2 separate regions of the Homo sapiens genome follow, and region 1 is linked to region 2. A link means that fine-mapping ties the variant in region 2 to the expression of a gene that starts in the linked region. Tissue or cell type: sigmoid colon. Region 2 holds a variant in brackets; the other region holds the start of a gene. All regions are shown on one strand. Distances are from middle to middle.

Region 1 (5,189 bases), 190 kb after region 2:
ACTAATATTAACACTAAAGTATTAGTATTAGTAGTTTCTAGAGGGTGGGGAGGAGTAGAGATATTTAACTTTTTCTTAAGTCTATCTACACTGTTTGACTGGACAAAACTAGCATGAATGACATGTCATTAAAAATAAAAAGAGCTTACTGCCACACGCTTAAGATGAATTTATACGATGCCTCAATAGGTAAACACAGACTAGACCAAATTACTTTCTAAACTGAGATCTACTGCTGGCACAGTAAAACAAAGCTCAGAGCCTCTTGCTTACTTCAGTTTCCATTTGAGCTTCTGCCCTTATTTACTTACAATACTCATTATAAACAGTGCAGCTCACCATAAAAGACAATAATACTTTCCTGGGAAACAGACTGTGTCAATTTTATTGTAACTTTTTAAATTTCACTCCTATATTTTTATGTAATCATCAGGTACTACTTAATCTTGCTAAACAGTAGTAACAGCCAGAGTGACCCAGTGGTAAGAGCATTAATCTTCACTGGTTTTACAAGTCAGAAAACCTGGGTTTGAAAGTGTGAGAAGCTGGGCAGACCAACCTGTGCGCTTCAGTTTTCTCTCCTATAAAAACTACTACTATTTGCTCTCTCCTTAAAGATGAATAACTAGTAAATTGTTCTTAAATGAATGAATGAAATGTGAAACTAAATCATGGAGTGTAATCTCCTCTATTCGATTTGTCCCTGGACAACCAAGAAGTTACCAAATTTTTTTGATCGAAATATTCCGTGCCCAAAATGTAACAGAAATAAAAACCACACCCAACTCCTAAAATTAAGTTACTTTTAAAGTTATTAGATAACAACAGGGCTTTAGAACATCAGCAGGATGTTCTGCTTTAAAATTGATTTGGCATCCAGGAGACTAAGCCGAGTCGCCACAACAGACTGGCTTGGTAATTTAATTAGAGTCTTCTGGAGGGACACATTATATCATCATCCCCCGACAGTGTTCTCTTTAGGGACCTGATTTTCTCTCTAGTCCTCTCATTCCTTTCCCCTTCCTCACCTCCTCTCATCCCTTTTGTTTGCCCTTTTTTTCTTTTTTTGCTCTTAAAACAGCTCTCCCTCCGTTCGTCTTGTCACTTCCATGCATTTTTAACTCTAACTAGAAATGGGTCACCCCAGGTTTGCTCCCCAAGCCCCAGGGCCCCTCAGGACGAGTGAAAAAGGCCCTGCGGTCCTCCCTGCCTGGGGGAATTCCTCCTCCGATCACAGCTCCGGTGGGCTCCGCAGATGGGAAAGGGTTTCCAGCGCGCGCCTAGCGGCCACAAATCACTTCCCGGGGCCGCCCCGCCAGGCCTCAAACCTCCCAGAGCCGTCGGTCGGCTTTTACTTTAACGAGGATTCAGATGGGTCACACCCTGTCCTCCAAATGCGGGCCTGCTCCCCGGACCCCGCCCAGGGGGCTCGCCCCAGTGCCGAGGCTCCTGGGCAACCCTAGCACTCTGCGAGTCGGGGAAGTGACCCCAAAGTTGCTTCTGAGTGGAGACTTCCGCACGCAGAGGCGTCCCCGCAGCTGCCAGGCTTTTCAGGGGCAGCATCCCCCGCCCGTCAGGAGCCTGTCCTCGGGGCCACCACGCGCCCCGCGCCTCAGCCCCGCAGGGGCCGCACCGGGGCCTCAGTCTGCAAGCAGCCGGGGACAGCGGGCTTCCTCCCCTGCCCGGAGCGGCCGAGCGTCTCGGCCAACCTCCCCCGCGGAGAGCACAGCGCCCCCGCGCAGTCCCCGAACTTCTTCCCGCGTCGGCTCGGGCTCTCGGGTGGGGACGCGGGGACCCCTCGCTCACCGATATCCCCATCGTCGTCGTCCTCCTCCTCCTCCATTTGTAGCAAAACATTCCTGCTCATCTTTTTCATGTCTCCCTCAGAAGGCGGCTCCGAACTTGGCGCGAAGTTGGGGGCTCCCGGGTTCCAGAACGGCGCGGCTCTCCCAGGGGCCGGATCGGGGACCGCGGGGCGTGTGTCGCTTGGGCTCAGGGGCCGCTGAGCCCAGCCAGCGCCGGGGAAAGCCGAGCCGAGGCACCCACCGACCGGAGCCCAGAGCCGGAGGACGCCTCTCGCCTGCCGAGCGGAGCCCGGAGACTGAGCATGCCCAGTGCGGCCGCCGCGGCTCGCTGCGGAATGATTGAACTTCCCCGGTTTTACGAGGCGCGCAGAAGGAAGTCGGCAGGCGAGACTGCAGAGGGAGTAGTGCGATCCTGCGCGCGGGGGAACTAGCTGGAGGGCAAGGCGGGAACACGTGAGTGCGGGAGTGGACTGGGTTCCCTGAGCATTGATCCCAAACAGGGCAGCTTTTCGTTCCAAGGTCGTCTGTGGACACACACTGTGGCTTGCTTTGTTTTAACGTCTGATACTGGAGAGGAGGGAAATGCTGCTGCAGCACAACTGCAGAACCCTGGAAGGCGAACTCGTTTGAATGGCTTTTAAAGGCGACGTGGAGCTAATAATGGGGGGATCTTAAATTACTCTAGCTCCGAAGTGGGAAAGTGGAATCTGTACGGGTAGGTTAAGATTACGGTGGAGTCGGGGTGGGAGGAGAGGCAAAACTCAGAGAATAAGCAAAAGAAGAAGGGGCGGGACGGACGGGAGTGGGGGTGGAGAGAATTTTCTAAATAAACGTGTGCACAAAGGCAGGAGGATTTCCGCATACATTGAGGTCGCGGAGAGTGGAGAAGCGCCCCCTACTCCGCCCGCGCGAGCACACAGGGAGTGGTCGGAAGATAATCGCTGAAGCGTCCAGCCTATTTGTACAATTGAAACTAGTCCTCTGTGTCAAAGAGGGAGAAGAAGCCGAAGACCACTAGAGTTAGATGTAAACTCTTCTAAAGCAATGTGGAAAGCTATAATAAGAGAAAAGAAAGTCGTGAAATAAAATTAAGGCAGAGAGTTTTTATTTTTATTTTTAATGCTTTCCTGGAAACCAAAGGGACCGATAGGACAAATACAAAGGGATTTAGTACTTTAAAGACCCTTGGAGTTGTTTGAACGGCAGGTTTTGGGGATCGCGTGTCTACAAAACTTTTTTCAAAAAAGCTGGTACATTCAGGTTGTTCAATTTTGACTTCTCAAAAGGGCTAGAAGGTATATTTGAAATCTTGGTTATATGTGTTATTGTCTACTCATTGAAATTGTTTATATTTTTTCCACTGAAGTGCTAGGGTTATCACAATAACACTAAATCTACTGTGCATGTTTTTTCTTCCACATACTTTTTTTAAGACGGTCTCGCTCTGTTGCCGAGGTGGGAGTTCAGTAACTAGAACTACAAGCGGAGCACACCACCATGTGGGGCTTATTCTTAAATTTTTTTGTAGAGATGGGTGTCTCACTATGTTGCCCAGGCTGGTTTCGAACTCCTGGCCTCCAGCAATCCTTGCACCTCAGTTTCCTAACATTTTTAATGTTCTCTCTGAAAGAAAGAAAACATTGGGACCAATCTTAAGTGGGAAAATAGACATGAATATATACATGAAAAGACATGATGAAATTACTTTTAAGAAAATACCTGGGAAACACTATACTTGCTTCTTGAGGTACTTTTTTTGAATAAACAGAATTGTTTTTAGTATAAAGAGACAACAATACAGTACTCTGAAGATAGGAGAAAAAAATGATGGGAGAAGAAAGATGAGAAGAGATTGTTTCCTTTCACTGAACACTCTCCCCTGAGCTTGTGAAACTCACTAAAAGTAGAAACTTCAAAAGTGTTTTGGTTACATGATCAATTTTTACAATTTTCTTTTAACAAATTTTTGTGTAGTACTTTTTATGTGCTAGGAAAAGTTTTACATGTTTTATAAGCATCCAGTCATTCAACCCTCATAACAACCCTAGAAAGTGTTATCATTTTTCTTCAGGTGTGAGGCAACTTGAGCAACTTGTCCAAAATCACACAGGGAATAAATAGTGGAGCCAGGATTGAAACCTCAACAGCTTGTTTCAGAATCAGTGCTCATAGCCTCTTCATAAACCACCTCCAGAGACATGTCCCAATCCATTTTTTTTTCAGATCACTTTTTCCCCCACCAATTCAAAATTCAAAGTCTCATCAACTCCCTGCCATAGTTCTTTAACCAAATGTTCTCTCTTTTTTTTTTTAAGACAGAGTCGCGCTCTGTCACCCAGGCTGTAGTGCAGTGGCTAGATCTCGGCTCACTGCAAGCTCCACCTCCCAGGGTCACGCCATTCTCCTGCCTCAGCCTCCGGAGTAGCTGGGACTACAGGCGCCCACCACCACGCCCAGCTAATTTTTTGTATTTTTAGTAGGGACGGGGTTTCACCGTGTTAGCCAGGATGGTCTAGATCTCCCGACCTCGTGATCCGCCCGCCTCTGCCTCCCAAAGTGCTGGGATTACAGGCGTGAGCCACCGCGCCCGGCCTTGTTCTCATTTTTATGGACTAAGACTTCGGTCAAAGTTACTTTGTAGTTAAAAAATTATCGAAGTTGACTTTGCAACAAGTTTTAATTAGTCATTTAGAATTCTTCACAGATTTTTAAGAGTTTACATTTTTCTTCTTTGATAAATGTTGCAGCGAAACATTGTTGGCCTTATATGTAAAGGTAACTGTTGCTAGAAGGGAACTCTATTATTAGTAAATTCCATTCTTTCCTCTAATCCATTTTATTTCCTACCACTTCTCTTCTGCATTTTTTTTCAGTTGAGCAATCAATATATGCCTCAGAAATAGGATAATAGGCCTATGTAAGAACCACACATTTAACCCTGAAGAATTATCATCCATACAATAATAATTTGTGAAATAAAATATTAATATACAGCCAGGTTATTTGTATTTGCAAAGCTTTTTCAAGTCAGGGATCGCAGAACAATTATTTTCTCATTCATTCATCTGATTAAATACAACTTTTGGCCACCAGGATATTCTTTCTCTGCCCATCCTGTAAAAGTTGTTGCTTTTCTAGCTTCAGGTCTTGGGTCTCTTTTCTTCTCATCTTTCCCTATAGAACTCATTCAGTCCTATAACTTTACTATCTAATCCAGGCAGGGTCAGCTTGATGGGCATTCAAACAGTGTATTCACACAGAGCCCTACACTCTTATGGGCCTAACACTTGGGATTTAAATGTTCTGTGGTTAATGCCCATCAATGATAGACTAGATAAAGAAAATGTGGTACATATACACCATACTATGCAGCCACAAAAAGGA
Region 2 (5,189 bases):
AAGTGGATGGGATATGAGTTCAGACACCCCTGAATCTGAATCCACACTCTATTTCTTAGCTGGTTAACTTTGGTAAAAAAATAAAACGGGGTGATAAAACCTACATTGCCCAGGGCTGCTGTCAGGATTAAATGATTCAAAATAGGTAACGGATGTAGCACGTTTCCTAACACATCAAAACCTGCTGAATGGGATTTTCTGTTGAGCAATACAGGCTGCACTGGCTGAGGCCAAGTGTAAATATGGCCTATATTACGTAGACTCTTGGCTCAGTTATCCAGGCCACCTGGATCAGTGGTTCCCACTTCAGCACATACAAGCATGACATGGAATGCTTGTGAGTAGTGCAGCTTCCTGTGCTCCCAACTAAAAGGTCTGAGATAAGCTCCAGAATCTGCAGTTTTGCAGTCATTCCGGGGGGGGGGGGGGGGGTGACTCAGGTAGCACCAAGGACCACACATGTCCATCACCCTTCATGACACCGAACTCTAAGGTCACTGGGTGTGGTTTCTATTTGTTTATACTTTGCTTTGCCTCCCAAACTTCTAGCCTCCGCCTCTTGCTGAATCCTTTCCATGCCCTCAGAGAAGCAGGTCTTTTTCTGTCTGGGCTCTAAATCACATCAAAGCTCAGATTCAGGATGAAACTTCTGTCCTGGCAACTACTTGTGTCAGCTGGCGCTTCCGTCTCATATCAGGTCATCTTAGAAGTCTTTCTTACTAGCTTTCATTTCTGAGTTACAGATGCTGAGCCTCTTGTTTGGTTTTCCTGAGTTGAACCACTCATGTTTGGGTTTTCTATTGGTCTGTGTTTCTAGTGCAGGGAGCTCAATCTTGACTTCACATGAGAATCACCCACAGAACTTTTAGAAAAATATACACACCAGATACGTTTTCCCTGGCCAAGGCTAGAAGCAGGGGTTACAAAATAATTTCCATAGGAATTTACCATGTGTATTGTCATAGCCACATCATAAGTTATGCTTTACTAGGTCCTTATTTTGTACAAAACATGGTGAGAAGCACTTTACATCTCACTTCCTCTTCAACTCCATTATCACATTTAATCCACATAATGGAGATGATCATCATTTCTGTTTAGGACGTTCTACAGTATTCCCACTTGCTAATTTTGAAATACAAGCATCCTTCACTATCTGAATCTATTTTATGTGTCAGTTTACTGTTTCTGAACCTAGAGAGTAAGTGTGGATAGTGAGGGACACCTATATTTAGGACTCTGATTGCCTATAGCTCATCTTCTCTCCAAATCCTATCCTGAGAAGGGACATTTTCTCCTAAAACAGTTCTTTTTTCTTATTATATAAATAAGTATACTTATTTATATAAGAAGAGGCGTTTATGTTACAATATACATGTATAAATGTATATAAAGGAAAATTATAGCTATCTACTAAATACCAAACAATTGATACTACAGACATTTTGGATCCTTAATTCTATTATCTCTGACATTTTGTTATAAAAATTTCTCCAGAGTGAGTTAACACAGGAATTATACTAGCCTTTTATTAAGAACAGAATAAAATCCCCAGGAATACCTTAAATATCAAAACACTAAGGTGGAGCTGGGAAGGCCAAAGGGCTCTGAGCTTGCTCTCCGGGTCTCACTGACAACTCTGTAATTTACTGATGTGATGTATCTGAAGCATACAAGGCACTTATTCATTCACTCAGCTGCTTCATACTGAGTCCCTGTCATATGCCAGGTACTGGGGAGGCCCCAAAAGGAACCTGGATCCCTGAGCCAGATATGCTCCTTTCCTTGTTGCAAGAATCCTAGTCAAGGGGTATGGGCCCAAAGGCGGGAGAGGAAGGAAGGAAGAGGAGGGTACATGTGTGGTGAAACATTTCTCCATGTTTCTCTTGACACACTTACACGATGTGAAAACAACTGCTGACTTATAAGGCTTTTCTCTATCTATTTTTGGGGGGTGGGTATAGTTTTGGATAGAAAGGATAACTGATATATCTTTTTTTTTTCTTCGAGATGGAGTTTCGCTCTTGTTGCCTAGGCTGGAGTGCAATGGTGCGATCTCGGCTCACTGCAACCTCCGCCTCCAGGTTCAAGCAATTCTCCTGCCTCAGCCTCCTGAGTAGCTGGGATTACAGGCATGCACCAAATGTCTGGCTAATTTTGTATTTTCAGTAGAGATGGGGTTTCTCCATGTTGGTCAGGCTGGTCTCGAACTCCCGACCTCAGGTGATCTGACCACCTTGGCCTCCCAAAGTGCTGGGATTACCAGTGTGAACCACAGCACCTGGCTGATATATCTTTGATAAATTAGGACTTTGTATAAAAAAGTTAAGAAAACTGGCACCTACACAAAGAGAAGCAGCACCAGTCACTCTCTAATTTGGCTAACACTCAGCATTCTCAGTTTTCAAACAAGAAAACATAGGGGGAGAAATTTGAAGGCAAAGTTCATATCACTGTAATTTTCAACAATGAGCTTACTTGAAGTGAAAGTATAAACCACGGATAGTATAATTCATCCTTTAAAATATTTCATGTGAACAAATTTCATTTCATATGAATTTCTCAATTCCAGTTTAGGAAATAGCTGCTAAAAACCAATGTTACCGAAACATAGTGTTAAATAATTAACCTACTTTTTTCAGAAAACCCTTTTTAATCTCAGAATGGATTAAGACTTTCCTCAATTTTATATATTTGTTTTCATCTAGAAACACAGTACTATTTATGCATGACCTACTTTTACTTATCTGGAAAAATCTGAATATGAGCTCAATGAAAGTGAGGGTTGTTTTCTCCGGAGTAGGATAAAAAAAAAAAAAGAATTTCACAGCTAAAGCCAGAATCCCTTTCTGGGTGGGGGAAGAGGAAGGAGAGAGATCTTTGTTTAGAGAAAGACCCTGACAGTTTCCATTGAAGATGGAGAATAAGACCTGTTAAAGAAATCTGGAAGGAGGCACTGAAACCC[G/A]GAGTGAGTTAACTGCTCAATAAAGAGAATGAACAGAAACTTGGTGACTGGGGAGAAAAAAGCCAGGAGTAGGAGAAGAAAGGAGAGAGAAGTTGTATGTGATGGAGGCAAGAGGGCAACATGGCAGGAGGCGAGAGCCTGTAAAGAAGGGTGATAAATTTTAAAAAATTCCCAGCTATATAGTGGGATAAAAGACTTTTTATAAAGGTAGAGGTTTTTTATTTCTAAACAAGGGAAGAGGTGGTGGGGGAGATGAGAGGAGGAGGACAGGGGGAAGAAGACAGAAGGCGGGAGAGGTGACTACAGAAGATAGTCACAAACACGAAACTTTGCTGGCTTTAAGATGGAGAAGAGGTTACAAGGCAGGGAGCATAGATGGTGGCCTCCAGAAGCTAGGAAAGGCAAAGAGATTCACCCCAGAGCCCTTGGAAATGAACACAGCCCCACTAACACCTTGATTTTAGTCCAGTGAGACTTCTGACCCCCGGGACCATAAAATATTACATGTTATTTTTATCCCATTAATCTTGGGGTAATTTGTTATAGCAGCAATAGAAAACCCAAACAAAAAGCTCCCTGAAATTTGCAGAAATTGCAGATGGTGTTGGACTTTACACTTTGATAGTGGAGGGGGCCTAAGTGAAAATTGTAAAGGGCAATGAAATCTTAGTTAACATTTGAAGTACAACTATTCTGTTGTTCTCATTTTTTAGGAAAACAACAGTAAGTCAAAGCCTTTGTGATTATTATTTTAGACAATTATTTCTTAAAACATTATATATCCTAGTGCCTTAGGATCATGAAAGAACCTCTATTCTTAAAAGTTTGTACTCATGGGATCCTGGATTTGAATCCTACAGTAGTCTCTTAATGCTAATGTGAAACTGGGTAAATCATTTAACCTCTTTAAACCACAGATCTTCATTAGTAAAAAGGAGATAAAAATAAGGATAGTTTGGTAGATTAAATGATGTATATATATATATAGCACTTAATATAGTGACTGGAATTCATACTGACTTTTAAATGCATAATATATAGGAAAGAGAGGAGAAGGATATGAGGATATAAGAAATTGTGGAAATACACAGTTCACAGCTCTAACCAGTGCTGTCGCTCAAAGGGTTGTGATTAGTCAGTCACCAACAATAGCCCAGTAGGTATAAACTCTAGCAGATGGGGATTTACATTAAATATAATGAAGGTTTTAAAATACAATTATTAGATCCTGGATACATTTGCATTGTTGGTTGGACTATGTTGTCTGGAGACCTTTAATGACAACAGATTCTGATCCATTTAGAGGTGGACATGCAGCTATGTGGCTATGTGGCTATGTAGGCAAATGATTTGTGTGGATGGGCTGTTCTATCCCTTGTCCTTTTACCCATGGCTATACAATTTAACACTCACGGCAATAATACTTCTTGTATGTTATTCCAGATTGCTTTTCCTCCCATGATTATTGTCAGCTGAGTTGTCAGTTCAAGAAGACAGCCACCTGGGTCACACTAGAAGGTTAAAAAGAAAATACCATTTAAATATTCAATGGATCTAACTTGAAATATAGGCATTCTATTTTTCTGACATTTGTTCTGTTTAGGCTAAAAAATAAATCTAAGGAATTTACAATAAAAAACTATTCATTTGGGCAACTGAGAGAAAACTCAGCTTAAACTGGCAAGATAATACAATTATATATTCATACCTCTTCATTTCTGTATTTTCCCAACCAATAAACTGGGTCTCCTGGATAGCCTACAAATTTGCCCTTAAAGAATGCTATGTAGAAGCATGAAGAGTAGTAGTTGACAAACTGGAATAAGAACATCTTCATGGTGAGGCTGTTCTCATAATCAGTCTGGGTCCTTGGGAGTTCTGTAGTTAAAAGAAAGAGAAATAAGATTTTAAAATTGTGAACAGCTTTGAGACTCTAATAAAAAATACTGATACATGAGTTAACACGTTAAACACGTTAAAAAAATACAATTCACACTGTTTCCATTTAAGCTGTTTTGAATTCCTTAATATAGCCACTGTGTTAATTCCAAGTTTGCACATTGTTATGAGTTCTCCCTCACAGTAGGAATACAATAGCCCACATGTTCCCCCCTGCCCCACAAAAAAATCAACTGTTCCTTAAAATTTACAAGTCCAGTGTTATCAAATAAGAACTGCCATGGGTATAATTGACAGAAAATTATTTTTGAACTGCCTGCTAAAT

The links. PIP is the estimated chance that this variant, and not a neighbour inherited with it, causes the effect.
Region 1: it holds the start of ANO6, and the variant in region 2 is fine-mapped to the expression of ANO6 in sigmoid colon (GTEx, PIP 0.92).

The regions. Positions count from the first base shown.
Region 1 is chr12:45,213,009-45,218,197 of GRCh38, reverse strand. It overlaps ANO6 (anoctamin 6), which reads right to left and starts at 2,103. Exons shown (of 20, transcript NM_001025356.3): 1 at 1,807-2,103. The coding sequence starts at 1,876. It also overlaps the pseudogene PLEKHA8P1. RefSeq lists enhancers at 1,098-1,227, 2,238-2,337 and a silencer at 1,468-1,777.
Region 2 is chr12:45,402,726-45,407,914 of GRCh38, reverse strand. ANO6 (anoctamin 6) reads right to left here. Exons shown (of 20, transcript NM_001025356.3): 14 at 4,674-4,843; 15 at 4,379-4,476. All of the region lies in intron 5 of LOC105369743 (a long non-coding RNA gene), which reads left to right. Among named protein-coding and RNA genes, the nearest start is that of ANO6, 190 kb to the right of the region's middle. The variant G/A (reference allele first, on the strand shown) is at 2,966.